7 linked regions of the Homo sapiens genome follow. The protein of the gene in region 2 purifies or fractionates together with the protein of the main gene of each other region. This does not show direct contact. Each region holds a gene or a part of one and is shown on either strand. Other genes may lie near its edges.

The links.
Region 1: the proteins of DCP1A (region 2) and HINT3 purify together in Homo sapiens (co-immunoprecipitation; one large-scale study listed by IntAct). This does not show direct contact.
Region 3: the proteins of DCP1A (region 2) and MARF1 purify together in Homo sapiens (affinity purification with mass spectrometry; one large-scale study listed by BioGRID and IntAct). This does not show direct contact.
Region 4: the proteins of DCP1A (region 2) and MAP2K1 purify together in Homo sapiens (affinity purification with mass spectrometry; one large-scale study listed by BioGRID and IntAct). This does not show direct contact.
Region 5: the proteins of DCP1A (region 2) and PATL1 purify together in Homo sapiens (co-immunoprecipitation; 2 studies listed by BioGRID and IntAct, with this or other methods). This does not show direct contact.
Region 6: the proteins of DCP1A (region 2) and ALDH18A1 purify together in Homo sapiens (affinity purification with mass spectrometry; one large-scale study listed by BioGRID and IntAct). This does not show direct contact.
Region 7: the proteins of DCP1A (region 2) and PPP1R37 purify together in Homo sapiens (affinity purification with mass spectrometry; one large-scale study listed by BioGRID and IntAct). This does not show direct contact.

What each region holds. Positions count from the first base shown.
Region 1 is NC_000006.12:125,959,288-125,963,771, reverse strand, and holds part of HINT3 (adenosine 5'-monophosphoramidase HINT3), read right to left. Parts: intron 1-4,484. UniProt on the Homo sapiens protein: Exhibits adenosine 5'-monophosphoramidase activity, hydrolyzing purine nucleotide phosphoramidates with a single phosphate group such as adenosine 5'monophosphoramidate (AMP-NH2) to yield AMP and NH2.
Region 2 is NC_000003.12:53,309,155-53,313,638, forward strand, and holds part of DCP1A (mRNA-decapping enzyme 1A), read right to left. Parts: intron 3,226-4,484; coding exon 3,087-3,225; intron 1-3,086. UniProt on the Homo sapiens protein: Necessary for the degradation of mRNAs, both in normal mRNA turnover and in nonsense-mediated mRNA decay. Removes the 7-methyl guanine cap structure from mRNA molecules, yielding a 5'-phosphorylated mRNA fragment and 7m-GDP.
Region 3 is NC_000016.10:15,622,272-15,626,755, forward strand, and holds part of MARF1 (meiosis regulator and mRNA stability factor 1), read right to left. Parts: intron 3,530-4,484; coding exon 3,101-3,529; intron 2,903-3,100; coding exon 2,745-2,902; intron 2,657-2,744; coding exon 2,498-2,656; intron 856-2,497; coding exon of another isoform or gene 853-855; coding exon 663-852; intron 1-662.
Region 4 is NC_000015.10:66,385,436-66,389,711, reverse strand, and holds the start of MAP2K1 (dual specificity mitogen-activated protein kinase kinase 1), read right to left. Parts: upstream 2,801-4,276; 5' UTR 2,365-2,800; coding exon 2,285-2,364; intron 1-2,284. UniProt on the Homo sapiens protein: Dual specificity protein kinase which acts as an essential component of the MAP kinase signal transduction pathway.
Region 5 is NC_000011.10:59,637,571-59,642,054, forward strand, and holds part of PATL1 (protein PAT1 homolog 1), read right to left. Parts: intron 1,814-4,484; coding exon 1,722-1,813; intron 1,628-1,721; coding exon 1,478-1,627; intron 842-1,477; coding exon 820-841; 3' UTR 1-819. UniProt on the Homo sapiens protein: RNA-binding protein involved in deadenylation-dependent decapping of mRNAs, leading to the degradation of mRNAs. Acts as a scaffold protein that connects deadenylation and decapping machinery.
Region 6 is NC_000010.11:95,607,970-95,612,088, forward strand, and holds part of ALDH18A1 (delta-1-pyrroline-5-carboxylate synthase), read right to left. Parts: intron 3,474-4,119; coding exon 3,287-3,473; intron 2,324-3,286; coding exon 2,228-2,323; intron 1-2,227. UniProt on the Homo sapiens protein: Bifunctional enzyme that converts glutamate to glutamate 5-semialdehyde, an intermediate in the biosynthesis of proline, ornithine and arginine.
Region 7 is NC_000019.10:45,144,724-45,148,314, reverse strand, and holds the end of PPP1R37 (protein phosphatase 1 regulatory subunit 37), read right to left. Parts: intron 3,462-3,591; coding exon 3,320-3,461; intron 3,222-3,319; coding exon 3,055-3,221; intron 2,963-3,054; coding exon 2,266-2,962; intron 1,926-2,265; coding exon 1,843-1,925; 3' UTR 1,835-1,842; intron 1,745-1,834; 3' UTR 1,030-1,744; downstream 1-1,029. UniProt on the Homo sapiens protein: Inhibits phosphatase activity of protein phosphatase 1 (PP1) complexes.

The sequences.
Region 1 (4,484 bases), on a different chromosome or scaffold from region 2:
GATGTTTTCTGATTGCCCCCTCCCATGATGTTTTAATGGCACAGATACAATGTATATATGTTTATGTTCTGTATGGTATACCTATGCTTTACATATAAAAAGAATAAAAATTGTTTTTCTCCTGCCACCTCTGCTCTGCCCCAGGGAAGAACCAACTTTTATCCTTTTGGAAATGCATGGATTAGAGGAAGAGCTAGCCTATCCTGACTTCATTATCACCACTGACTCTAATAAACAATTTAAATACAACGAATAACTGTTTCAGATTTCTTTAAATCTGAAAACCCAAATAGGGCAGACTGGCACTCAACCTCCATTCTAAATATTTCTGTGCTTTCTGTAATGCAGAACTAAAAAAGCTAAAAATCCCAGAGGGAATTTAGATCTTGCCAATCAAAAAGCCATGTTTTTGCTGCTTCTGTTATCATCCATCTAGCAAACTTGGCCAGCTTTAAGACTACAAAGACAGGTTTTCTTTATCTTTCTCCCCCTCCCCCTTTTGAATACCTTATCACTAGCTTCACGGATGTCAAGAATGGCAAGACATCTATTTTTTGTTGGGAAAAAGCTGCCAGCGTGGACCCAGCAGATGGAGTGTGGCTCTGAAGCAGTGTTTCTCAACCAGAGGTGGAAATACATAGACGCCCTTTTGATCACGCATACTGCTAAAATTTGGTGCGCCGAGATCGGGGATGCTAACCATCTTCCAACAGGGGACAACGTTCAAGTTAAATTGGCACTGAGTTATTTCCTCAGTATAGTTCCAAGCAAGGTAAATTCTAGTCCAGTGTTACTCAATTACTTTTTCATTATTTTTTATCTAATGAGCCTTTTAAGACTTTTTTTTCTTCTAATCCCATCTCCATGAGATTTTAATACCACAGCTACACTCTCTGTTTATGTATATCTGTGCCTCATACATGAAAAAGTAAGATATTGCCCCACCACCACCAAGAACCAATTTTCACCCCTTTGGGAGTGTCATCTGCCCCATTAAGAATGCATGGTTCAGCCTTTGCTTAGTTTTAAATCTGCAGTATACAATTAGACAACACCATATGGAGGTTTATGGAGTGAAGAATCTTCTACAGCTTTTGCTGGAAAGGTTTGCCAGACTAACCCCTCATGATGCTGGTAACTCCAATTTTTCCAAATGGAAATTTTTCTCTTTTGTACCTGAATTACACTTTATATAAACCCAACAGTTTCTAAATGTTTGCAATGAATATATTTGAATGAGTATATGAATGTATGATGTAAACCATCGAATTATGTTATGTAGTTATTCTTTTTAAAAAGATTAATCTTTACCCTTTAATGAGTGAGCTCTTGTACATCAAGTCATCTTAGATTCAATTTGAAAAAGATACACAACCTTTGGGAGCACTATTATACACGCATCTGTATCTTACGTTTTGTATTATACGGTTATGTGTGTGTGATATATATATATATATATGTGTGATATATATATATATATATGTGTATATATATATGTATGTATATATATATATATGTGTGTATATATATATATGTGTATATATATATATATATATATGTGTATATATATATATATATATATGTGTATATATATATATATATATATATGTGTATATATATATGGGTTTCCATCCACGATTCCTGGCTTATAACTCCCAATGCCCTTGTTACAGTCTTTTGTTACCATGTCGAGGCATTTTAGGCCTCAGAGACAGGCCTCAGAAAAAGAATCTCTCTCACAATCTCTCTGCCCTTCTTTTGCCCTCCCCTCACCTGCCCAAGTCAGGACTATAATCTTCCCTGACCTTTCTGATTGTGGGTCATAAAACCCTCATTTCTGAAGGGATTCTGCCTCATACCCTGGAGGAAGGAAAGCTTCACAGAGAGGCCAAGAAGAATCTGGACAGGCCTTGCTGGGTTTCCCCACTCAGTCTACTAGTATTAGATCATACCCTTTTTGTCCAGTCACATTAATACAGAATTGTCAGTCAGGCCTATCCAATGAAGACTCCATAAAAGGCCCCAGAGAACAGAGTTTAGAGAGCTTCTGAATAGCTGAACTCATGGAGGCTCCTGGGAGAGGACACGCCTGAGGAGGACATGGAAGCTCTGCCCCCTTTTCCCCATACTTTGGGCTATTCATCTCTTCAGCAGCATCCTTTGGTATATCCTCTATAATAAACCAGTAAACCTAAGTGTTTCCCTGAGTTCTGTAAGCCACTCTAGCAAGCTTTAGAACCCAAAGAGAAGCTTGTGGGATCCCCAACTTCAAGCTGGTCGGTCAGAAGTTCCAGAGGCCTGGACTTGCAACTAGTGGGAAGGGCAGGCCAGTCTTGGGGACTGAGTCTTCAACCTGCGGGATCTGATGCTATCATCAGGTAGATAGTATAAGAATTGAAATGGAGGACAACCAGCTGGTGTCTGCTGCAAAACTGATTGTTTGCTTGGTGTGTGGGGGAAAACCTCCATACATTTGGTCACAGAAGTGTTCTGTGTTGATTGCTGTTGTTGAATGGGAAAACAAAAAAAGCACAGTTTGTGTTTTTCCACTGACAATGGGCTATTGTATATATTCCCCGTTTCCCTAATTTAGGGTGTAAATTAGTTGAAAGTACTGATCATGTCTTATTTCTACCATGAAAATATCCCCAGTCTCTTCATATTGTTTACTTTGTTCCTAACCAAGAAAAATTCTCACCTTGGATGTGATAGAAGTCTGGATCCCACCCCTTTTGATGACTATTTTCAGACAAAGCTTTCTACTGCTACTAGTATCTATTTTCTATTAGTTTCATTATTGGAACTGCAGAATACAAAATTTAAAAGCAGTTTCTAAGGATCTACTAAATATTGAACTCTGAGTTTAAAAATGCACTTTACCTCTCTTTAGCCTACTTTTATATTTAGTAAAATAAAGGGAGACTGAAGAGGCAGAACTAGGTCCCTTCTGACTCTATGGGTCAGTCCAACAAAGGTCTGCAAACAGAAAACTGATGTGCGTATTCTTTCTCCCTGTCAGGTGCTGTCTTTACTTCCTTCTCCTATTCAGCATATATTCCATGGTCTACCACTTCAGCCACTTGCTTGCCCTAACTTCTTTTTTTTTCCCCCCCCCCAGAGAGAGTCTTGCTCTGTCACCCAGGCTGGAGTGCAGCGGCGCGATCTTGGCTCACTGCAACCTCCACCTCCTGGATTCAAGCAGTTCTCCTCCCTCTGCCTCCCAAGTAGCTGGGATTACAGGTGCCTGCCACCACACCCAGCTAATTTTTGTATTTTTAGGAGAGATGGGGTTTCACCATATTGGCCAGGCTGGTCTCGAACTCCTGACCTCGTGATCCGCCTGCCTCAGCCTCCCAAAGTGCTGGGATTACAGGCGTTTGCCACTGCGCCCGGCTCCATAACTTCTTAACTGTGTCTCACTACACTTCTATAACAACCACATGGCAAAATCCCAACCCTGGGTCAATACAACTGCCTACCTTGTGTAATCTCAGCCTTTGGCTGCTGCTGGAAAGTGGGAAGAAAATCACACAACTAAGCAGACTGGTATGACCTGAAATTGAATGTCCTCAACCTCACGTGACCCGCTGTACAACAATCCTTGTTTCCCTAATTCTCTCTCCTAGCCTTCACAGGAGCTACTTCAAACCTTTTACTTGTAAATAACCATATAACCATATAATTGCTCCTTCTCCTTTTTCAAGGCTTAACCCAAATGTCACCTGCTTAGTGCAGATTTTCCTGACTAAAATTTTAAAACTGCATCCCCTTCCTCTTTATTTTCTGCCATCTAATAAACTATAAATTTTACTTATTGTTTTGCTTATTATCCTTTTCTGCAACGACAATGTGAGCTCCACAAGGGCAAGGAGTTTTGCATGTTTTGTTTACGGCTGTATCCCCATGCCTCCAACAGTGCCTGGCACACAGAGAGTGAGGAATGAGTTTCCTCTTTCCCAGGGTCAACATTCTACCCGCCGGGCCATTTTAAACCTCTCTCTATAGGCATCTTCCCACTGGGATTTGAACACACAAAAGGTTTCACTGTTTTAAAAGCTTTCTCTTAATCCCCAACTTCTCCTGTAGCTACCACTACCTTTCCCTCCTCCCCTGGATTGCCAAATTCCTGTGAGAGTTGTCTGTATTTGCTGTCTTCACTCCTTCCTTTCCCAAGTTCTTCTCAATCAACTGCTATCTGCCTTTTGCTTCACCACTTCATGAAATTGCTCTCCTCAAGGTCAATGAACATCACTTTGGGGACACAACCAGTCCTGCTCTGACTCTGCAAGGACATACAAGGGTCATCTAACCCAGATTTGAGGATGAAGGCAGGCTAATATTGCTGCTGACATTGCTGGCAATTCCTTTCTTTTTGACATACTCCCTTCTCTTAGCCTTTCCAGCGTTCCTTCTATTTCTCTGTTCCTTCTCTATTCCCTTTCCAGGTCCTCTTCCTCTGTCTGTCCCTTATGATGTTAGTGTTC
Region 2 (4,484 bases):
AGGTCAAGAGATTGAGACTATCCTGGCCAACATGGTGAAACCCTGTCTCTACTAAAAATACAAAAAATTAGCCGGTCATAGTGGTGCATGCCTGTAGTCCCAGCTACTCAGGAGGCTGAGGCAGGAGGATCACTTGAATCTGGGAGGTGGAGGTTGCAGTGAGTCGAGATCGCGCCACTGCACTGTAGCCTGGCAACAGAGCGAGACTCCATCTCAAAAAAAAAAAAAAAGGAAAGTTAATTAAAAGATATTATAGAAGTGCAATATCTTTCTTTTGAAGAAAATGCTTATTATACAGATTTTTAATTTTCAAACAGTCTCTAGGCTGGCCACAGTGTCTCACACCTATAATTCCAGCACTTTGGGAGGCCAAGGCGGGAGGACAGCTTGAGCCCAGGAGCTTGTCAAGATCAGCCAGGGCAACATAGTGAGACTCTATCTCTACAAAAAATAAACAAAATTATCCAAGCATGGTGATGCATGGCCTATAGTCGTGGCTAATTGGGAGGCTAAGATGGGAGAATGTCTTGAGCCTGGGAGGTAGAGGCTGCAGTGGGCCAAGATTGTGCCCCTGCACTCCAGCCTGGGCAACAGAGAGACCCTGTCTGAAAAAAGAAAAGAGTCTCATTATTACAAGTGCTCATTCAAAAGTCTGAAATTTCGTTCATTATATCATACTCAGCAGATAGCGGAGACTCAGAATCAGGATTAAATCCCAACACTGAGGCCTAGCTTGCACCCCTGCCCTTGATTGCCAATCTTCTGAGTCTTCACCTAAAGATAAACAAAGGGGCCGTCTGAAAAAATGTGGCAGCTGAAGGGAGCCCATCCAAACACCAAGACCCATGAATTCATGGGTCACTGCTTATACCAGCTCCATCTGATGAGATGATAGACAAATGCAGATAAGAGAACAAAACTCTAATTCAAAGAAGCTCCACCTATTGCAGACAGTTTTCAAAATCAGAAAGAACACATGATAAAGTAAATATCAAAGATTTAACCAAATCCCAAAGGGTTTCATTTTAATCTACCCATAGACGATATTTTATTCCATAGTGTGAAAGAAGTTTATTTAAAACAGAAACTATCATGCTATCTATATTCCTTTTGTAATATTGATATAATTCAAAATAATGTCAGATGTTTAGATTGCCCACCTGACCCTAGAGTTCCTTTAAAGTTTTGTGTTCAAAGCTAATGTCTTATTTCCTACTTTCTCGTTGTGGCTACTTAACCTCTCAGCCTGAGTAAGCCAGGCCACTTACTGGAGTATCTGCTTTAGTGCGCAGCACCTACAGTTTCTGTCCCGTGTGGTACCTTGATACAGTTATTACTCAGGATGAGTGACAGAGCCCTGGACTTACTAGGTACCTATGAGAACACTGAAAGGGCTCTACAAACAGAACAAAGTATGTACGTAGAAAATCCGCTTGTCATCAAGGGTAGAAGAGGGGAATGTAAGGTAACTTCTAAATCAGAAAGCCATTCTTGAAGTTAGTTCTCATTTGGTTTCCTAAGAATCGATTAATTTATTAGAGAGGTGACTGCTCCTCCAAATTTAACTTCCATAGATCCATTCATTCCTCCTAATTCTCTGTGAGACATTGAAGAATTTGGTACAAACTTGAAACTTCTCATGGGCTCTCATGTACATTTCTCCACCCTGGAGGTGGGACTTCCTTTGTTATCAGAATGTAGAAGGTCTATGTAGTTTATGGTGAACATGCCTATTTTTAGTCAGAAGAAACTATCTTTCAGAACACTTTTTTCAAACTTTTTCCTGAACTCCAAATTCTTGAGTTGTTAAAGGGCAGTATGCAAAAAATGGTCCTGCAGTCAAGTCAATCTGGGAATTGGTGTTATTGTTTTACTTATTGCAGGACCTCTCAGTTTTGAGCTCTGTAAAGTCCCAAGAGGATGGGAGGAGGAAGAGTCATGCTAACAACAGTACCTTAACTCGTTTTGCCAATTTGAAGCTTTTTTCAGGATCACTGATTAATAACTTAGTAGCTGGTATTATAGCAGAACTGTATGGGAAACAGGGTCTTTTGGACAGTGCTTTTTCACATTTTGTTCCTTGAAGTTCTGGTGAGGTGAAATAGGCATGAAAGGAAAGCACTTAATTCAATATTTAATGAAGAGTAAGGTGACAGTATAATTCTGCTAAAACAAAGTTCAGCAGTAGAGAGCTTGTCTCACTCCAGTGAAGTGTGGGGGCTTTGAGGTGCCAAGTAAAATTCCAGGAGAGTCATAACCATGAAATGCCCACTGCTTGCACATAGTAGATGGTTCATAAGCAGGTATTGAATAAATTAACGAAAGTACCACAATTGCCATTTTATTCAACTTTTGGGAGAAAATTTTATCAGCTAATTTATAAACTAAAATGCACAACAGAAGAGAAAGAAAACAGTGAATTTCAGAAAAGCCTCTCATTTGGGTAAAATTCCAAATGAAGCTTAATGAAGGTTGTGCATCTACCACCAATTACAGACCATGAGTGTATTTTTTAGTATTATGTGGTACAAACTATCAGAATACTTTTCAAAGCCTAAACAAATTCCTAGGACCACTGAGGATCCTAACAGAAACTGCAGTGGTGAAGAAGAGGCACGAAGCTTTACCAGAACTAGCTGCTGCGAGCTAACTTCTGCACTCCAAGACCATCTTCTCCCATAGTAATCTTATAGGAATAGAAAAAAGCATTGTAAATTTTCCTGCCAAAAACAAGTAATCTGGGGTAAGCAAGTTCTTTCCTTATGTTTTAGGTTTAAAATTGTAAGACACATCTGTTTTAAAAAAAAAAAAAGAGAGACACAGGGTCTCACTGTTGCCCAGACTAGAGTGGAGTGGCACAATCATAGCCCACTGCAGCCTCCAACTCCTGGAGTCAAGTGATCTTCCTTCCTCAGCCTGCCAAGTAGCTGGGACTGATTACAGGAGTGTGCTAACACGCTCTCTTTTTGAACTTATATTTCTGCCGTCCCTGGAGGCCAGCTTCCCTAGTAAAATAGTCTCCTGCAGACCTCCTCCTCCCGTTTTGGTCTTCCCTGGTCAGCACCCAAGTACCCAGAGAGCCTCACCCTCTCATACTCATCCTTGGCTCTGCTCAGCATCTCCAGGATGTCGATGGGCCTGTGGTCGCTGCAGCCATTGGCCTGGCTGGGACTCTGTTTGTCCCGAGCAGCTTGCTGGGATCGCCGTGTCTCCTCTTCTACCACACTAGAGGAGAAGAACAAGGTTTTAGAAAGGCCTCTTGAAACAAAATCTGACCCAAGATTTCTTTTGGTGTTCATCTTCCAAGGATACACTAAGAGTGTCACATGATGACATTCTTCTTTTTTTTTTTTTTTTTTGAGATGGAGTCTCGCACTGTCGCCCAGGCTGGAGTGCAGTGGTGTGATCTCGGCTCACTGCAAACTCCACCTCCTGGGTTCACACCATCCTCCTGCCTCAGCCTCCGGAGTAGCTGGGACTACAGCGCCCACCACCACACCCGGCTAATGTTTTGTATTTTTAGTAGAGATGGGGTTTCACCGTGTTAGCCAGGATGGTCTCAATCTCCTGACCTCGTGATCTGCCCTAGGCCTCCCCAAGTGCTGGGATTACAGGCCTGAGCCACCGCGCCCAGCCGATTACATTATTCTTGCAATATATAACACAGAACTTCAGTTACCTCATTTCAGAAATAAATGACTTACCATTTCACCGTCTCATTAACAGTGCCAATATTTACCCTTCAGAAGGATAAAAATACAGAATTCCTTCCTAGAGTTGGCAGAGATGCATTACAAACTCCACTAAGGTTTCTCCCTTTTTCCCTTGAAGTATTTCAAAATCAGTCAAACTAATTGCTAAAGTAAATATGAAAACTGACAGTTCCACCAAGACACAGGAAGGCTGCATAGTTGAACAAATCCTCTGTGGAAAGTTTGGATTGACACTGGGCTAGCAAGGACAAAGTCAGTTCTTGAAAATAGAGGTCTTGGTGAATCCTTAAAAGTTAGTAACACTATAAGCAAATAAAAGGTTTCCCTTATTCTCCCTTTTAAAAACCACCAACTTAGCCTGGGCAACTTGGCAAAACCCCGTCTCTACAAAAAATACAAAAATTAGCTGGGCGTAGTGGTACACGCCTGTAGTCCCAGCTATTTGGAAGGCTGAGGTGGGAGGACTGCTTGAGTCTGGGAGGTAGAGGCTGCAGTGAACTGAGATCACACTACTGCACTCCAGCCTGGGTAACAGAGTGAGACCTTGACTCCAAAAAAAAAAAAAAATCACTAAGTGGGCTTTCAGTTTTTAAGAACACCCCCTTCTCCCTTGTAAAGAAAGATCTGAAACAATTACAGCAAAATATTAGGAACTGAAAGCTGGGTGGTAAGCACATACATATTTTATTATTTCCTATATTTTTCTTCAAGCTTTCAAGCTTGAATAATAAATTTTAATAAAGCAACTTTTTTTGTTTTTTTTAAGATTCA
Region 3 (4,484 bases), on a different chromosome or scaffold from region 2:
AAATGAGTCAAATATAATAAGGCATAAACAAGACCAGCCAACATTATTTTAGAATCCTACCTGTATTTCAGCAGGAAGAGCTAACTGAAATCCATCAATGTTTTACTTATCAAATTGCCTTTTTTTTTTTTTCTTTCTGAGATGGAGTCTCACTCTGTCTCCCAGGCCAGAGAGCAGTGGCGTCATCTCAGCTTACTGCAACCTCTGCCTCCCGTGTTTAAGCAATTCTCCTGCCTTAGCCTCCTAAGGAGCTGGGACTACAGGCGTGCACCACCACGCCCGGCTAATTTTTTTTTAGTAGAGACGGGGTTTCACTCGCCAGGCTGGTCTCAAACTCCTGACCTCAGGTGATCTGGCCGCCTTGGCCTCCCAAAGTGCTGGAATTACAGGCATGAGCCGCCATGCCTGGCCACAAATTGCCATTTCAATTTCTGCCTAAGACAAGAGCTTTTCACTGCTAGGCGTCTTGCTCTCTGGGGCTAACATTGTAAAAACTGGATTTATAGCACCACCCTGAGCAGACCAAAGGGAAAAGGAAGGAGTTCAAACTTGTTCAGTCACACTTCTATCCCGGCTGTGGTTATGTATATCAAATTAGGTCCTCTTGACTAGAGACTCCATCAGAGAGTATAACAAAGCAAGCACAAGAGGGAAAAAGTTACCTTGCCATGCCTGGCAAATGCTTCCTGCAGGAGCTGCTGCAGCTCCTTCCGGGATAATCTGTAGTCTATGTTGCTGACTTGGACATCAGCACCATTTGCAAATGGGTCTGGGCAGTCGGCTTCGCTGCTCGAATTTGCAATGTTGAAAGCAAGCGGGGATGCTCTGTTTAAAAGGTTTGGAGACATACTCCTGCTTAAAACACACATATTGACATTATTTTAAAAAACTGTTCTGTATATTTAGATTTTATCATTTAGGCTTTGTTTGAAACTATATACAGAAGCAGATTTTCCACAACACAACCAAACCAAACATTTGGTTTTCAAATGTGTTTTTAATCTTTTTTTTTTTTTTTTTTTTTTTGAGACAGAGTCTCGCTCTGTCACCCAGGCTGGAGTGCAATGGCACGATCTCGGCTTACTGCAACCTCCACCTCCTGGATTCAAGCAATTCTCCTGTCTCAGCCTCCCCAGTAGCTGGGACTACAGGCATGCACCACTACACCCAGCTAATTTTTTTTATTTTTGGTAGAGATGGGGTTTTACCATGTTGGCCAGGCTGGTCTTAAACTCCTGACCTCAAGTGATCCACCTGCCTCAGCCTCCCAAAGGGCTGGGATTACAGGCGTGAGCCACTGTGCCCAGCTGTGTTTTTAATCTTAAATACACATTGATTTCAGACATTGTCAAAAGTACTATCTACTGACCCCTAATTACCGCCAACCAATTAATATATATTCTTCCTTTGGGTTAAAGCTAAAGGCAGGAATTAGAGGCAGTCCTGATGAATTAACCTTCTGCTTTGTGCATTATCCTTAGGAAATCAGCCTGTGATACCAATTTAAGGCGTCTAACCTCCTCTGTGTCTCTGAAAGAGTTAAACGTTCTTGCCTACATGTTACAGTTCTTTCTGCACATAAGGAAAACTTTTATGTGGCTTTTTAGATGTAATTTTATAGATCCATAGTCACTTTCTCTTTTTTTTTTTTTTTTTTTGAGACGGAGTCTCGCTCTGTCACCCAGGCTGGAGTGCAGTCATGCGATCTGAGCTCACTGCAACCTCCACCTCCCAGGTTCATGCCATTCTCCTGCCTCAGCCTCCCAAGTAACTGGGACTGCAGGCACTCACTACCACGCCCGGCTAATTTTTTGTATTTTTAGTAGAGATGGGGTTTCACCGTGTTAGCCGGTTAGCCAGGATGGTCTTGATCTCCTAACCTCATGATCCTCCCGCCTCGGCCTCCCAAAGTGCTGGGATTACAGGCGTGAGCCACCACGCCCGGCTGATCCATAGTCACTTTCTACAGTGATCTGCCACCAACTCAGCAGAACAAACACAATGCTAAAAGGAGCTCATGGGAATGCAACACGGCCTTACGGCTTCTCTGTCTCCCAAGCATCAAGAATTCCTTGGTGTGAGAGACAGTGATAAATAATTACCATGGTTTACAGAAAACTTTACTTCCAAATAGCTTCCTATACAGAACCATATGAATCAGAACCACCAATGCACGGCTCGTTTGGGCTTTTTCCTCAACACAGCGAACATAGGGACATCTTTACATGCCCCCCTGCACTGGCCAGGGACTCTCCAACAGGCTTCTCTTTCTGACCTCTGCTTACCACAATTTCCAGATGGAGGAAGAAGAAATGGTGAAAGCATTGCCCCTAAATGTTAACGATGATTACCTGAGGAGAGGGGGACTGGCAGAAGAGTGATGGGAGACTTACTTTGTGCATTTCAGTACTATCTGAATTCTTTTCAACAAACATACTATTTCATAATCCTTCCTATTACATGTAACCACCCCCATGGGTCAAGAAGCTGGACTCACCTAGAAGACCAAGACTGAGATGCGAGCAGAGGACTGACTTGCCTGGATGCAACTAACTTGCTAAAAGCAGACGGGTAACTCACTTGGAATACAGTCTCCTCTTTATCTTTTTTCTCTACAGGAGAACTGGTAACACTTCGGGCACTGAGGTTCTCCTTTCTAACAGAAGGGGAAAATTGAAGGCAAAAGGTCATATGTCTTCCTTCACATTCAAGAAGCAGCTATGAGAAAGAGTAGTTTCACATACTTCTGACTGGTTTTGTAAACGGGTTCTGCCACCCCCGAGTTTTTCGGCGTCGACACTGCAGCACTTGAGTTACCGTGAGTGGGTACGACCAGCCTCAGGTGACCTTGCTGGTGCTCACTGTTTCTATGACCAGTTTTTGACTCCATGCGGCACAGCTCCTTCAAAGACACAAGCACAGTGGGGTTTAAATTTTAAGTACCCAAGATGTGTTAGATCCTTTACAGAAAACGATTGACTTTGAGTATCATCAAACACTGAAATCAAAAAGGGACACGCCAAAAGCAAGCGGGCACGTAAAACACAGAAACAAACCAAACCTACCATAAACTTCAGAAAGCAAGAGGTATCAAAATTACCTGTAAACTTTTAACATTTGTATTTTTTGTAGCAGATCCAGAATTTGCCTGTGACCCTTTTCCAGGCGTGGCTTTGGCACTGGAAGATTGTTCACTTGCATCTTTGATGAGGCACAATTTTGGATTCTTAAGTTTTTTGGGAGACTTCACTTTATCAGCAATTGCATTTGAACTCTTTGTTTCACAGAGTTCTCTATTTTTTGGAGTAAATGACACAATGATCCTATTACCAAAGACATCTTCGTTTTCCATTCGCTTCTGAGCGCGCTCTGCACTATCTTGGTTTATGAAGCGGAGAATTGCACTGCAGCCTGTGATACTCAGCACTTTCCCACCACAATTATCGGACAGGCGTCTGAGCCTGTTGCTGACGCTCTTGCCATCCTTATTTGCTGGTAGGTTATAAACATAGAGCAGAGTGTGGCACTGCTAATACAGAGGAAAGAAGTGTTACGTCAGGTTAATTCAAGGGCACACATTCAATTTCAAAATAAGAACAATGGGTGACCTCCAAACTTCAGTTAACAACTTTGAAGAGAAGATGACAGTGATTTAGATGGGAGAGGGTAAATTATTTAGTGTTGACAAAGTAACTGAATATTGTTTTAAAGAATATGCTTTAGCTGGGCATGGTGGTGCATGCCTACAGTCCCAGCTACTCAGGTGGGAGGATTACCTGAGCCCAGGAAGATTGAGGCTGGAGTGACTGTGCCACTGCACTCCACTCTGAGTGACAGAGTGAGACACTGTCTCAAAAAATAAAAATAAAAAAGAATATGCTAGGCACAGAGGTCTGTATACTATATGATTCCATTTCTATAAAGCATCCAGAAAATACAAATCTACAGAGACAGAAAGATTAGTAGTGCCTGGGAGTGGGGAAGGGGATTAATTATAAATTAGCATAATAGATTTACTGAGGTGACAAAAATATTCTAAAATTGTACAACTCAATTTACTAAAAATTATTGTACACTTAAAAGAGCTGAATTTTGTAATATGTAAATCATATCTCAACGAAGTTGTTTTTTAAAAGTCTATTTATTCTGCAGGTCTGCTGAATAATAACTTATAGAGCCAGAAGGTGAGCAGGGTCAGTCCTGGTTGGTTTTTGCATAGGAGAATGCCTGGGAATACTAGGAGCTATAGGCTTAAGTAAACAAAAATTTTTTTAAAACCCAACAATTTAGAGCCTGTTCAGCTTCAACAGCAGATTGCCAGTAGTTAGGCTGGAAGTTTTATTTGGCAGTGGGTAGTCATAATTCTTCCAGATAAGTTGAAATTTATGTATTAAGAAGTAGAACTTGGCCTGGCACAGTGGCTCACGCCTGTCATCGCAACACTCTGGGAGGCCAAGGCAGGTGGATCACCTGAGGTCAAGAGT
Region 4 (4,276 bases), on a different chromosome or scaffold from region 2:
TCTCAGCTAGTTAGGAGGCTGAGGCAGGAGAATCGCTTGAAGCCGGGAGGTGGAGGTTGTGGTGAGCCGAGATCGCACCACTGCACTCTGGCCTGGGCAACAGAGCGAGACTGTCAAAAAAAAAAAAAAAAAAAAAAAACCACAACAGAGCTAGGCTTCAAACTTAGCCTGACTCCAGAGCCCTTACCTTTTAACCACTGTTTAGACTCTCCCAGTACCATCCAAATTTTTCTGCCACCAAATCTGGGGTAGTTTCTTCTCATCCTGCTTTTACTGTTTTAATGAAATTCCTCCTCCTTGAGAGAATACAGTTGTGGTATCACGATTACAACAGAATGATAACAGGTACTTCTACTCAGTATCCACTTCCAAATCAAATAGGAAAGGATAATGAGGCCATAACACTCAGCCAGAATCCACTGTGGTCAAAACTTGTCCTAACAACAGTCATGACTTTCAGTCTATTTTAAGAGGGTGAAACACTGTATACTAAAACTGAACAAATGGGCTGGGCACGGTGGCTCATGCCTGTAATCCCAGCATTTTCGGAGGCCGAGGCAGGTGGATCACCTGAGGACGGGAGTTTGCCACCAGCCTGAACAACTTGGAGAAACCCCATCTCTACTAAAAATACAAAATTAGCCGGGCATGGTGGCGCATGCCTGTAATCCCAGCTACTCGGGAGGCTGAGGCAGGAGAGTCGCTTGAACCCGGGAGGCAGAGGCTGCAGTTAGCCAAGATCGCACCATTGCACTCCAGCCTGGGCAACAAGAGTGAAACTCCGACTCAAAAAAAAAAAAAAAAAAAGAACAAATGTTTGCAATGCAATAATGCAATCCAACTACCTATACAAGTCAGTATTATGCAAAATAGACCCCACAGGATTGAGAGGGGACTAAAGAAGAGAGTCTGTTGGGAGCAGGTCTGAAAAACACAGCTGAACACACACCACAGGTCCACCATCGACCTTGTGATCATTACAGGGATGGAACAAGTCATCAAGCCAACAGGTCCCCGGGTTATTAAAATCTAGAGAAAGTTGGCTGGGCATAGTGGCTCATGCCTGTAATCCCAGCACTTTGGGAGGATCGCTAGAGTCCAGGAGTTCAAGACCAGCCTAAGCAATATAGCAAGACCCCATCTGTATAAAAGTTTAAAAAATAAAATTTTCTAAAAATCTAGAGAAAGGAAGGGAGGTTACAGAAATCACCAAAGAGCATAAGGTCCAAGCCTATTCTGATTTCATCAATTAGCTTCCTAAAGTCTGCAGTGTGCAGGTAAAAGATTAAGAACCCAATCCTTATTGAAGGTTGGGCAAACAACAACCAAAAAAAGGCAAAAAAATAATAATAACCTAATCTTTTCTGGCTATTTCTCTAGCTAGCTAAGCAGCTTTCCCTCACATAGTCTTGTCCCTTACCTAGAACCCAAGAGAGTTGTGGGAGCTCAGAAACCCCCAGGAAACAGACTCATGATTATTTAATGAAATAAAGTGCTCGTTTGTAAGCAACGCTGGAAGCTGCAGAGATGGAGCACCTAGCATGTGGTTTCTAGGTCATGGTGTTCATGCCTCAGGTCAGGAGTTTAGGGGCTCCTGGTGAAGTACGGAAAGCTAGGAAATCATTAGTGAGAAAATGGTTTGTTCAATGAATGAATGAAGAGTAGGATGAAGAAGAAAGCCGCTTTCTTGAGCAATTTCCCAGGAAGGCCAAGTACCAGGAACCTCCAAAGTCAGCAAGGAAAAGCCACGAAGTCCACACGGACTTCCAGCACGCCCCCGCTGGCCAGGCAGTTGGCCTGCAACAAGGCACTCAGGCCCCACAGGTGTCAGGCATGAAGGTGAGGATGATGCTCCACACTTAATACCCTGAGCTGGTCTCAAAAGCACAGATGCGATCTTAATTCTTTCCAAAACATTAGCCTCCTCTCCCCGTTACAGGCCAGACTCCCAGATGATCACATTTAGAACAGAACTGGGAGGAGGCAGGGGAGACGTGCTAGCTTTTATTTTCTTGGGAGAAGACTGTACAGTGGCCAGGAACCACTAAAACGGTCGGGAAAAGGGGTACAGAGAGGAATGGAGACCCGCGGGATCCGCTAACTGGTCTGAGTCAGGAACACAATCAGTGCTTAGTCACCGATACCTCGGCGGCCGGGAGTTTCTCGCCCCCTGCCAGCCCCAGACGTACGTGACAAACCAGATCGGAGCCTGGCGCGCGCTCCTGCTCCCCGGCTCGGGCCTCCCCAGCCGGGCCCCGAGGTTCACCGCCCGCCCCATACTTACTCCGCAGAGCTGGTCCCGTTAACTGCAGAGCCGTCGGGGGCCGGGTTCAGCTGGATGGGCGTCGGCTTCTTCTTGGGCATTTTGGACCCGGGTAACGCGCTTCCAACTCCGGGGGGAGGGCAGCACCTCTCGCTTCCTCCCGCTGCGCTGCCCCGCGCCCGCTGCGCAGGACCAAGTCCGGGCCGCGGGCCCCGGGGCTGCCTTCAGCGGGTGCGCCCCGCGCGGTCCCGTCAGCGCCGAGGGGCCGGTAGCGGTCTCAGTGGACCCCCGCCCCACCCGCCCGGGACTCGGCTTCGCGCGCAGAGAGCCGAAAGGCTGCCCTGCAGGAGCGGAGCGGGCTGAACGTGCGGTTCGGCAGCCCGGGATTCCCTTCCTCTCTCTCTCTCAACCAACCAGTCCCTCCGGCTCGGGCGGCACAGCCGCGCGCGCACCAGAGCCCAGCTCCAGCTCCTGCCGGGGAAAGTGCCGCCGCCGCCGTGCTCCTAGCCGCTCTGCGAAGCGGCCCTGGGAGGGACTGGAGGCCGGGGGAGGGGCGGGGAAGGGGAAGCCTCGCCTCCCACCCGGGATGCGGCGCTTTCCACACTCCCACTCGGCTCCGCCCCTATTGCCTCGCAGACAACCAATGGGGGCAAGCCTCGGCGGCAGATGACGCGGAAATACGTCACGGGAGCGCGGCGCACTGCCTGGGGGCGGGGTCCGTCGCGGACGCCGTGGCGCCCTCTGTCGCCCCGAGGCAAGCAGGTGGACCCAGCTGAGAAGAAGTCTGTGTCGCTGTGTGGTGAGCTCTCCAGGCCAGGTGCCGCGCGGCCTCCACCTCTGCGGTAACCGGCCTGCCCCCGACCCCTGTCCCCAAGCCGAGCCGTGTTGACGAAAATGAAATAACAAAATAAATAAGGAAAAGGACCCCTTCCTGTGTCCAGAGGAGAGGCAGCGTGGGGAATAGGAAACTTGTCGAGAGGCTCCTTTGAGCCCAACAAACTGACGCATATAAATTTTGTTTGTTTAATGGTAATACTACTGAGAAGGGTGCAAGGAAATGGATACTCAGTGCTGATGAGATTGTAAATTGTTGCGACAGTTTTTGAGAGCAGATTGATGATTTTTTTTTTTTTAGACTTGGGAACTTTTTTTTTTTTAAGACGGTGTCTCCCTCAGTTGCCCAGCCTGGAGTGTAGTGGCGCGATCTCCGCTAACTACCACCTCTGCCTCCCACGTTCAAGCGATTCTCCTGCCTCAGTCTCCTGAGTAGCTGGGATTACAGGCACTCGCCGTCATGCCCGGATCCTTTTTGTATTTTTGTAGAAACGGGTTTTCACCATGTTGGCAATATTTTTTTAAAGCCTTAAAAACACTCTTTCGGGCCAGGAGCGGTGGCTCACGCCTGTAATCCCAATTTTGGGAGGCCCAGGCAAGAGGATCACTTGAGCCCAGGAGTTCGAGACTAGCCTGGGCAACATAGTGAGTCCCCCGTCTCTATTAGCTGGGCATGGTTGTGTGCAGCTGTCGTCCAAGCTACTGAGGAGGCTGAGGCTGGAGGATCACTTGAGCCCAGGAGTTTGAGGCTGCAGTGAGCTATGATCACACCACTGCACACCAGCCAGGGCTACAGAGCAAGACTCCCTTTAAAAAAACTTTCATCCAGGCCAGGCGCGGTGGCTCACGCCTGTAATTCCAGAACTTTGGGAGGCCGAGACGGGTGGATCACGAGGTCAGGAGTTCAAGACCAGCCTGGCCAAGATGGTGAAACCCATCTCTACTAAAAATACAAAAAATTAGCTGGGCGTGGTGGCGGGTGCCTGTAATCCCAACTACTTGGGGGGCTGAGGCAGAGAATTGCTTGAACTCGGGAGGCGGAGGTTGCAGTGATCCAAGATCACACCACTGCACTCCAGCCTGGGCGACAGAGTGAGACCCCGTCTCAAAAAAAAAAAGAACTTTAATCCAAAAATTCCAATTCTGTGAATTACTAAAGAAATAAGATGTGAATAAAGA
Region 5 (4,484 bases), on a different chromosome or scaffold from region 2:
CAAGTACCCTGTAGTTGTAGCAGGAAAAAGACATAACCATGTGTTGTTTCGATTAAGGTGGACAGAAACTAAGGAAATAAAGGTGGGAAGAAGAAAAAGGACTTCTCAGCCTAGACCTGGGCATAAGCCAATTAAGAGTTCTGATTTTATTAAACGTGCTGCATACTCTTTATTTATGTTAAAACAAGTAGAACCCACCAAATTAATTACAAGATAGAACAGAAACAGATTAAAATACATCAGCTGGTTTGTGTTTAGAAGAGGTAATGAGACAACTAAATATTTTTCAATCTAAAATTCATTCTTTAAGGACCCTCTGAAGACCACATAAATACATGTATGGGGTGTGTGTGTGTGTATCTATGTGTGTGTGTATATCTTGATTTCTACTTAATTGGCTCTTCTATAGTCATATTAATATGGGGCAATGAAAAAACAACTTCAATAGGATGAGGGAAGGAATCCTTTGGCAGGCTACAATCTACTCTGAGGTGGAGTAGTGGAGGGATAAAGGGAGAGATTACACTTGTGTCTCTAGGGCAAAGAAAATGCAAAACAGAACTGAGTAAAAGTAGGACATGCAGAACTGTAACACAGAAGGTAAAGAAACCAGCAGAAGTATCACCCAGCCAAATTTCATAGAGCAGTGGGGAAATATCTGACATTTAGAGAGACAACCCCTGTAAACAGGAATCGATCCCACAAGACTTTGCTTTGGGGAAAAAGCTACCTTCCTTCCCTCATTAAAAACACTCCATTGGTGATGGCAGCAGTGCAGGTGGCAGCCAAAAGGAGGTACAGGACACATTTGGAGATCTTTTATCGTATCCCCTGAACTAGCCTAGGAGTACAAAGGAGAGAAAGGAAAATTGTATAAATGAGTTAAAACAGAAGGCAATCTTTCATATTACAGTTACATCTTTGTAAGACTTCTCATAACAAAATACCCGAGATTATTTCTCTACCCTTAGCATTTGGTCATCTTTTATGAAGGCCCTGTTGTACCCAGTTCAGTGTTTTATATCTAACAGATACACAAATAGTTAATAAAAAGTCAATCTCTTCCACCAAATTCAGTTTTATTCCCCCCTCCACCCCAATCATAACTTCTTTTTATTTATTTTTTTTGAGACAGGGTCTTGCTCTGTCACCCAGGCTGGAGTGCAGTGGCGTGATCTCAGCTCACTGCAATCTCTGTCTCCCGGGTTTAAATGATTTTCATACCTCAGCCTACCGAATAGCTGGGATTACAGGCATGCACCACCGCACTTGGCTAATTTTCGTATTTTTTTAGTAGAGACAGGGTTTCACCATTTTGGTCAGGCTGGTCTGGAACTCCTGGCCTCAAGTGATCCACCCTCCTGGGTGTCCTAAAATGCTGGGATTACAGGTGTGAGCCACCGTACCCAGCCTCCCAACCATAACTTCTAAAGTCCCAACTTTAGTGAGATGTGAAACTCTCCTGTTTCAAACTTACTGCAGTTTTGTCTCCAGCAAGTTCAGTTTCTGCCGGTCAACATAGCGAGAAAAGAGGGACACTAGGTTTGTAGGTATAGAGATTGGCTTGGCCAGGGCTGCTTGGGGAATCCGCAGAAGTTCTCGTGTTGCCATGAACATCACCTCCGTCCTGACAGGGAAGACCCATAATAATATCAGGAGAAAAAAATTTAAAAGATTACCTCAAAGAACTTAAAATAAGAGAAGAAACAGTCCACACTGACCACTGATTATTTTGTGTTGATTCTGTAGCAGGGTCTGAACTCTGTAGGTCTTCACCACGGCTCAGGAGGATGAGGAGCAGTGACAGGCCAAACTACGAGAAAAGACAGAGGGAATCAAACTCAACACTGTGTCTAAACCTCCTCCACCACTGTTGAAGGGATCCTGGCATCAGATGGGGAACAGCTCTAAATCAAAATAACCTCACTACTGTGCTTTTCTGTAAAACCAGGTAAAGATCAGACAAGCATGAGTTGAAAGGCTATGTCTCTCTCCAGGCTTTATTCTGCCATAGCAGTGACCAGGCGCAGCCAACAGAAACGGAAAGTCATGGTGTCCAACACGCCTCTCTGTTCCCCATGCTGAGGTTAAAAGATGGTTTTTCCTTGCCATGGATAATGTAGAATTTGACTTTTCTCCTATTTATGAGAACAGAAATAGGCTAAAAAAGAAAGTAAATGAAGACCAATTTTGGTACAGAAATTAAAAATCAGGAAAAAATAAGAAAAAAGCATTACAGTAAGATATTTTGAATTAAGAAACAAGGTGTAAACTGTAGGAAAATATACAAATAAACACAACTGAAATAAACATGGTATAAAGAGAAACTTTCCATTAAAAAGCACATCTCTATCTGGAAATACAAAGTCTTAGACAGAATGTTAATAAAAATCTAAAAAATAAAAAGAGAGAAAGGGTAAACAGATGTATACACCGTATCTATAATTAAAATTCAGCAACATGCTTTAGAGTATGCAATATATAAAAATGGTCAGGTGTGGTGGCTCATGCCTGTAATCCCAGCACTATGGGAGGCCAAGGTGGGTGGATGACCTGAGGTCAGGAGTTTGAGACCAGCCTGATCAAAATGGTGAAACTCCGTCTCTACTAAAAATAGAAAATTAGCCAGGCACGGTGGCACATGCCTGTAATCCCAGCTACTTGGGAGGCTGAGGCAGGAGAATTGTTGGAACCCGGGAGCTGGAGGTTGCAGTGAGCCAAGATCGCACCATTGCGCTCCAGCCTGGGCAACACGAGTGAAACTCCATCTCCAAAAAAAAAAAAAAAAGTAACATATAAAAATGTGTTTTATTTAGTGGACAGTAAAATCAGGAAATGTAGTCTTTGGGGCATAGGATTAAAATATGGGACGGGCGTGGTGGCTCATGCATGTAATCCCAGCACTTTGGGAGGCCAAGGCGGGTGGATCAAGAGGTCAGGAGATCGAGATCATCCTGGCTAACACGGTGAAACCCTGCCTCTACTAAAAAATACAAAAAATTAGCCAGGCGTGGTGGCGGGTGCCTGTAGTCCCAGCTACTCGGGAGGCTGAGGCAGGAGAATGGCTTGAACCCAGGAGGCGGAGCTTGCAGTGAGCTGCGATCGCGCCACTGCACTCCAGCCTGGGTGACAGAGCAAGACTCTATCTCAAAAGAAAAAAAAAAATGAACAGGGGGCTGGGGATGGGCATGGTGGCTCATGCCTGTAATTCCAGCACTTTGGGAGGTGGAGGCAGTACTGCTTGAGTCCAGGAGTTCGAGACCAGCCAGAGCAACATAGTGAGACCCTGTTTCTGCAAAAAATATAAAAATCAATCGGAGGCTGGGTGTGGTGGCTCACACCTGTAATCCCAGCACTTTGGGAGGCTGAGGCAGGTGGATCACGTGAGGTCAGGAGCCCCGGACCAGCCTGGCCAACATGGCAAAACCCTGTCTCTGCTAAAAACACAAACATTAGCCTGGTATGGTGGCGGGCACCTGTAATCCCAGCTACTTGGGGGCTGACGCAGGAGAACTGCTTGAACCTGGGAGGCAGGGGTTGCAGTGAGACAAGATATCGCCATTGCACTGCAGCATGAGTGACAGAGCAAGGCTCTGTCTCAAAAAAAAAAAAGTCAATCAGGCATGGTGGCACATGCTACTCAAGAGGCTGAGGTGGGAGGATCGCTTTGAGTACAGAAAGTTGAGGCTGCAATGAGCTGTGACTGTGCCACTGCACTGAAGCCTGGGTGACAGAGTGAGATCCTGTCTCAAAAAAGAAAATACAAATAGGGACAAGAAGGTTTAGGTTAAATGTATGACTCATACCTATAAATGGATCATAAAAGGAAGGCTGGCAGTACTTTGGGATTCCATTCCAACTTTCTAGACTCACTCACTTTTCCACAAAATTTCCCTTCATGGCCGGTTGCAGTAGCTCACACCTGTAATCCCAACACTTTGGGAGGTCGAGGCAGGCTGATAGCTTGAGCTCAGGAGTTTGAGACCAGCCTGGACAACATGGCGAAACCCCACCTCTACAAAAAATACACAAATTAGTTGTGCGTGGTGGCATGTGCCTGTAGTCCCATCTACTTGGGAGGCTGAGGTGGGAGGATGGCTTGAGCCCAGGAGGCAGAGGTTGCAGTGAGCCGAGATCTTGCCACTGCACTCTGGCCTGGGTGACAGAGAAGACCCTGATTTAAAAAAAAAAAATCCCTTTTCATGTTATTCTCAGAAAAAAAATACTACTGCCTTTACTAAAATTAAAACTAAGAGACCAAATAACAGAAAGGCACATTCCGGATCACTCCAGAACCCCAGAGGCACTGTCACCTCTTCTTCCTCTGATACACTGACCTTTAGAGTCATGCTTTGGTAGGTTTTCTGGTGCAAAGGAGCAAGAGGCCTTGAGACCACTTTTTCATCTCTACTGTACATAGAATGGCCCTTAATGAGTAACTACTATGTACCAGGCATTATATCGAACCACTTACAACTGTTATC
Region 6 (4,119 bases), on a different chromosome or scaffold from region 2:
ACCACATGACTTTGGACATACTACCTAACTTTATGTCTCATGCCTCAGTTTCTTCATCTGGAAAATGAGAATTCATCTTGTAGAATGAAGTGAGAGCATGCTTGCGACACATTTAGCACAGTGCTGGGAATGTAGTAAATGCTCAGTAAAATCTGTTACTGTCATTAATGCATTTCACAAGGAATTTAACTCAACCAGCTTTCACTCTGAGCTGGTGTTGGAAGGACAATGAAATGATCTTTTGTTCTTCCTTCATCCTGGATTTTCATTTGAATGCTGGGTGCCCCAGCCCTTAAAAATATGTTGCTATTTCTTTTTCAAGTACATGGAGAGTATAAAGATCAATGCAAGTGATGTGATAATTACATCAAAATCCCAACATAATACAAATGGGGAACTAAAAATAAAGAGTATCATGATTAAGAATAACTGAGTTAAATTCCCTTTCATAACCTTTTAACAATTTGGTGAGAATTATTTCTCCAGGCAGATCATCTACTCAAAAAGTTCAGAAGGATTAAAATGTGTGTCTTTCTGTTTTGTTTTGTTATACAGATAGGGCCTCACTCTCTCCCAGGCTGGAGTACAATGGCATCATCTTAGCTCACTGCAGCCTCGAACTCCTGGGCTCAAGGGATCCTCTTGCCTCAGCCTCCTGAGTAACTGGGACTACAGGCTCACGCCACCACACCTGGATAATTTTTTCATCTCTGTAGAGAGGAGGTCTCGCTGCGTTGCCCAGGCTGGTCTCGAACTCCCCGACTCATGAGATCCTCCTGCTTCAGCCTCTCAAAGTGCCGGGATTACAGGTGTGAGCCACTGCCCGTGGCCTAAAATGTTTTGAGTGGTTGAAATAATTCTCAAATATTCAGAAAACGTGTCATAAATGTATTATTGGAGGTTTTTTGTCTGTTTTGTTTTTTGAGATGGAGTTTAGCTCTTGTTGCCCAGGCTAGAGCGCAATGGTGCGGTCTCGGCTCACTGCAACCTCTGCCTCCCAGGTTCAAGCGATTCTCCTGCCTCAGCCTCCCGAGTAGCTGGGATTACAGGCAAGTGCCACCATGCTCAGCTAATTTTGTATTTTTAGTAGAGATGGGGTTTCTCTATGTTGGTCACGCTGATCTCCAACTCCCGGCCTCAGGTGATCTGCCCGCCTTGGCCTCCCAAAGTGCTGGAATTATAGGCGTGAGCCACTGCGCCCGTTCTGGAGTTTTATATACTGGTACCCCTGAAAACGAGAGACTGTCCAAATAACCCCAACACGACAGAGGGCTGGAAATTTTATACCTAATGGAAAGGGACAGAAGTGCCCTTCTGAAGCTTTTTATTTCAAGGTCTGCTGTAGAAGGTAACCTTGTACTTCTGGCTGGCCTGTTTGTTTTGATGCTGGTACTTAGGCCCACGGCACCTTCTTTTGTCCTACCATTGTGGGGTTTCCTATCTCCGAGGCAACCTGGCTGTGCCATTTTGACGAAATAAGTCTGTAAAAGGAGTGCTCTCAAGGGACACAGCATGTACCTCTGGCGCAGCCTGTGTAAAAAGGCAGGCTGTGGTTGCCCACGCTGTAGCGGGAGAACCCAGGCTTTGGACTTGCTCAAGTTTGGGTCTGAATGCCAGCTGTGGGACTTTGGGCAAGTTACTATACTTCTCTGAATCTCATTCTCCCTCTTTGAAAAATGAATACAAGTACCTGCCTTCTTAGCATGTGAAATGCTTAGAAGATAGGCCTTCCACCAACTCATGGGAGGTTTCATTAATTATTCTCCCTGATAATCCTACCTTGCCAGAAGTCTGTCTCTATTTTTTTTTTTTTTTTGAGATGGTGTCTCACTCTGTCCTCCAGGCTGGAGTGCTGTAGCGTAATCTCGGGCTCACCGCAACCTCTGCCTCCCGGGTTCAAGCAATTCTCCTGCCTCAGCCTCCTGAGTAGCTGGGATTACAGGCATGCACCACCACACCTGGCTAATTTTTTGCATTTTTAGTAGAGACAGGGTTTCACCATGTTGGCCACGCTGGTCTCGAACTCCTGACCTCAGGTGATCCACCCACCTCGGCCTCCCAAAGTGCTGGGATTACAGGCGTGAGCCACGGCACCCAGCCTGTTTCTCTCTTATCTTGACCAAGCATGTGACAGTCAAGGGGAGGTGTCTTTCCCACCTCAACATACCCCTAGACCACACAGTGCTTCACAAGGAACTTCTTTCTTCCCAACCAGAGTCTTTCTTACCCAGTCCAAAGCGGTAACCATCAGAAAAGCGAGTGCTGGCATTCCAGAACACACAGGCACTGTCTACGTGCTGCAGGAAGAACTCCGCTGTGTTTTCTGCAGGGTGAAGAAGGAGAAACCAAGTTAGGATGATACCCAGAGAACATCCCTGTTTCCAGCCATTGACTGGTGACAGATCAGGGCAGGGTCTGGGTCCCCACTGGGGCCTCTCCATGTGTTCTCACGTATTAAATACTCAGGCTTATGAAAAATCTCAACAGGAAGAAGACAAGTTAGCTTCATCAATCACGGTGTTGTGGAAAGACTGAGTTGGAATCCAGATCTCCCATGCAGGTGACCTGCCTAAACTTCCTACTTATGGGCTCCAGAGCCAGACTTCCTAGGCCTGAACTCCAGCTGTACACCTGCTAGCTTTGTGACCTTCTGCAGGTGTACAAAACTCTCTGTGTCTGGGTCAAAAGGGACTTACAACATGACCTAGCTGATAGGGTTGTAGAGAGGATGAAACACCTGGGGAGTACTCATGCTAGTGCCTAGCACACAGTGAGTGCTTGGTAAATGTTGGCTGTTAATACGGGTGGTACTGCTCTGGTGCCCTAATTAGCTGACTGTAAATTCCTCATTGGGGCCCTACTGGCATCCTCCACCATTGAGGCTCCAGTATCTGACACCCAGGAGTGTCCCTGCATACATATTTGTGGAATAAATGAATGAATGAATGAATGTGCAGAGTTGGTTCTGCCTTGGTTTCCTCAGCTGTAAAATGGGTTTATTTTAACTACCTTGTAAGATTTGCTGCACGCATTAAATGATAGTGCCTCTGACAGGGTTAGTCATCTTCGAAGCAGAGCTAATCATCCCTGCCCCTCCTCCTCCAGCTGTGACAATATAATAAAGTGATGTGAAAGCACTCATCAAAGTACCAAATGCAACCACTACTAAACATTACCATAAGCCTACTCAAATGATGTTTTTCTGCAGCCCAAGGGGGGCTAAGAGGAGCAGGATCAGAAAGCAGCAAAGGCAGACACTGTATGCGGGAAGCATCTGGACACTGACCGTCCTCTGTGACGATGACATCCGTGTGGGAGCTGCCATACTTGTGGATGTGGTCAATGGCATCCTGAACGTTGTCCACTACTTCAATGCATAATTCCAGGTCCCCATACTCAGTTCGGAGTGACTTCACTTCGGAGGGGCTGAAGGTCAGATAGGAGGCAAATTTGGGGCCTGCATGAATTTTTACCTGGAACAGAGGAAGTCCAGGGGCAACAACATAAAAACAACTGAAATAAGCAAGTTCTAGGATAGAACAGAAAGGTGAGCCTGTAAAACCACAGCCCAAAGTGGCTCCTGTAGCCTCAACAACTGAACTAGTCCTACTTTCCTCCCTCCAGCATGATCTGACTGGCCACTTGCCAGCAATGGGCCCTCAAGACAGTTGGAACAGGGATTGAAGCAGGAAGCCTTGAACGTTAAGGATGTGCAAGGTGGGCCGGGCATGGTGGCTCACGCCTGTAATCCCAGTACTTTGGGAGGCTGAGACGGGTGGATAACTTGAGGTCAGGAGTTCAAAAACCAACCTGGCCAACATGGTGAAACCCCGTCTTTACTAAAAAAATTAGCAGGGCATGGTGGCAGGTGCCTGTAATCTCAGCTACTTGGGAGGTTCAAGCAGGAGGAGAACTGCTTGAACCTGGAAGGCAGAGGTTGCAGTGAGCCAAGATTGTGCCACTGCACTCCAGCCTGGGGCACAGAGCAAGACTCCGTCTCAAAGAAAAAAAAAAGAATAAAAAAGAATGTGCAAGGCGTTTAGTGGGTTATCAACACAAGGGCTTGACTTCTGGCATTTTCCTAAAATGAATACTTGACAATAAAGATCCCAGTTCCTG
Region 7 (3,591 bases), on a different chromosome or scaffold from region 2:
GACACTTACAGCTGCAAGGGACCAAACAGCAAACCAGCAGTGGCTTCCTAAGGTGTTCCTCCCAGAGGCCAGGGTGGCTGGGGGCAGGGGACTCCCTGGTGTGTGCAGGAGCTGAATGACACCAGGGCTCCAGCCTGCGACTGTGGTTCTCGTGATGTCACCACAACGCCTCCATCCATGTCAGCCTCCCACACGGGAAACAAGGGGATGGGTGGCCCAGAAATGCTCGTTTAGTAATTTTTTTTTTTTTTGAGACAGGATCTCACTCTGTTGCCCAGGCTGAAGTGCAGTGGTGCAATCACACCTCACTGCAGCCTCAACCTCCTGGGTTCAAGCGATCCTCCCAACTCAGCCTCCTCAGTAGCTGGGACTACAGGCACACGCCACCACACCCAGCTAATTTTTGTATTTTCTATGGAGATGGGGTTTCACCATGTTGCCCAGGCTGGTGTCAAATTCCTGGGTTCAAGCAATCCTCCCACCTCAGCCTCCCAAAGTGCTGGGATTACAGGTGTGGGCCACCATGCCCGGCCTGCTCCCCCCTTTCCTAAAGGGAAAAACAGACCTCTCAGAAATCCGCAACAGCACCCCCATGGCCCCCCAGGCCCCTGCTGGCAAAGGGGAACAAGCCGCCCACCAGGCTCCTGCAGTGCTGGCTGGGCCCGGGGCATACTCCCACCTGCACAACACCTGGGGCTGCCAGGGACAGGCTGGGATCTGTTCCTGTTGAGCGATGGGCGACTGGGCAGAGCCACTCCATATCCAGCATCCTGAGACCCTAGACCTGAAGCCAGGAGGTATCTGGGGCCTGTCTCTCCCTGCAGAAAGGATGGGTGTAAACTCGCCTGGCTGGGAGGTGACCGTACGAGACACCAGAGCATGGATGCAGAATAGACGGGACTGTGGGGGAAGACGCAGTAATGCCTGACCAGTGCCCTGGCAGATGCTCTGTAACCAGGAGCTGTGATGGCCTCCACCCAGCCCACCCCCAGCAACCACCTCCAGGATCCGCACGAAGCAGACGTTGGGCAAAGTGAACCCAGCCCCAGTTTATTAGAAAAGGTGTGAACAGAGTTGCACCGACAGGAGTAGCCCCAGCCCTCTGCCCACCCTCACCCACACCCATGCCACTCGCCCCCAAAGGGCTGTAGTGCCTCTCAGGGCGCAGCCTCCAGTGGCCTGGACAGCAGGGTCCCGGAGTGCCGGCTGCTCCCGCCCCAGCTCCCTGATAGATTTATTGCACTTGAGAAAAAGAAAGCTCTGATCCTCTGCTCCCATCCCCCCACCCTGCCCGGCCTGCGCTGTCTGGGGCTGTTCTGTGCATCTCAACCACCACCAGCACGCACCGCCTCTCCGGCACCAGGCTGCCTGCCCGGCCCTGTGCCCGGGGCCACAGGGGACCATCCCACCACCACCCAGGACGCCTGCCCTCCGCAGGGCAAGCCTGGCCCCTCCAGAACAGGCGCCTGATGTCCTTGGAGACCTCCTCCTCCTCCTGCTCCCCCTCCTCCCATTCACCCCCAGAGTCTTCCAGTGCTGGGCTCATAAATAGAAGTGCTTGAGTCACGCGCGGAGGGCCACTCCCTGTAGCTCCTGCACCCCTTGTAGTGTTGCTGTGGGGGGAGGGGGGCCCCAGAATGGCCCCCACCCCTGGCATCCTGGGCCTCAGGAAGGCTGGGGGGAAGGTGAGCAGATTCTCATGGCTCTGGCCTCAGCTCATCGCAGACCGACCGGAAAAAGGGAACTTGGGGAGGAGAGATTGGGGGAGAGACTGTCAGAGCCAGAGGCTCTCTCAGCTCCTCCCGAGTGCTGTGGGCCCCGGGCCTGGCCTCACCTAAAGTGTCACAGTGTCTCCTGCCCGGATTCCTGACTGGCTTCCAGAAGCAGCTCCTCGAGCTCCTTCTCGTTCTTGGAGCAGCTCAGTTCTGTGTGGGAGGACGGGCCAGCACCCCCGTCAGGCGGGTGGGGCAAATACAACCTGTCCCCAGCCCGGCCCCAGCCAGACCCTCAGGGCCTGCAGAGTGCCCAGAGACCGCTGAGATGGTCAGGCTCAAGGCAGCACACCTTACATGCCCCCCCACCCCAGGAAGAGCTCCCAGGACCCAAGGGAAGCAGGGTGGAGATGAGAACTAAGCCCCACTTTGCTGGCCCCTGCGAGAACCATTTTAAAGAGGGGGAAACTGAGGTCCACAACAGGCAGGGGCTTGCCTGGGGTCACATACAGCACCCAGGGCCCCTCAACACCTGCCCTAGGGCCCCTCTCACCGTGCTCCAGGCCGCAGCTGCCCCCCTTGACCTCAGGCCCCGGGGGCGGCTCAGGGGGCAGTGCCAGGGCGAACTCGGGCTTCAGGCCGTTGGGCAGTGGTGGCCCTGACCGAGGCGGCTCCGGTGGTGGCTGAGGCTCAGAGGACCCTGTGTCCCGGGTGTCAATGGCCCCGGCTGGTGGTAGGGAAGGTGAGGCGGGTGGGGAGGGAGGGGGTGGGGGAGAGGGAGGGGTGGGGGACGCAGGGGGCTCTGCCCTCTCGGGCGGGCTCTCCACCCGGGTCACCACAAACACCTTGTGGCCCCGGCCCGGGCTGGACACGGAAATCCGCTGCTCGGTGGGTGTGGAGGGGCTGCCTGGGGGACTCCTGTCCCCAGGGCCCAGGGAGTCCGTGGGGGGCACCAGGGCAGGACAGGGGGTCTCGTCCCTCTCCCCTTCCTCTTCCTCCTCTTCCTCCCCATCCGAGTCCGAGTCTGAGTCTGAGTCCGGGCTGGGTGCGGGGCTGGGGGCCCCGTTCTGCACCCCAGCGGCGGGCTCGTCGTCGGGCTGGGGCTCGGTGGCGGTGGTCTCAGGCATGGAGGCCGACAGCTGTGGCGGCTGCTCCTTCTCCTCCCTCTCCCGCGCCAGCACCAAGTTGCGCTTGCAGCCGTTCTGGATCTCGGCCAGCAGCGCCTTCTGCGTCTCGATGAAGCTCTTCACCTGTGGCGGGAGCGCCTGGCTAGGGCTCTCAGGCCGGCCCCACCACCCGGCCTTCCGCCCGCCCCAGGGCTGCAGGACCGTCCCCTGCTCACCGCCTCTTTCTTGGGTTCACGGTCGAGGTCCAGGCGCAGCAGTGAGTGGTTCACCTTGAGGGCCAACGACAGTGCCATGAGCCCGCCTGTCTTGATCTCGTTCTCCCGAAGGTCCAGTCTCAGGAGGCGGGGGCTCTCAGCGATGAACTCCGCCACCGCCACCGCGCCTGGGGGGGCACCGCAGGGGCTGGCCACGGGCCCCACACCCGGCTGGCCGCCCGGCTGAGCCCACCAGCCCGCACCCTGGCCCGGCCCCGTACCCTACCCTCGCACGTGAGCTTGGTGGAGGCCAGCCCGAGGCGCAGCACGCTGCGGTTGCTGATGAGCCCGTTCTTGAGGTGCCGCACACCCTCGTTCCCGATGGGGTTGTGGCCCAGGTTCAGCGTCTCCAGGCTCTGAGTGTGCGGCTGGAGGGAGGGGGTGTGAGGGTGAGGAGGAGGCCGTGATGGCGGAGGAGACCCAGGAGGCCAAGTCAGGAAAGAAGCCGGGAAGAGAGCCAGGCCCGGGCGCTCCTTTTCTTTCGCGCGCCTGCGTGAA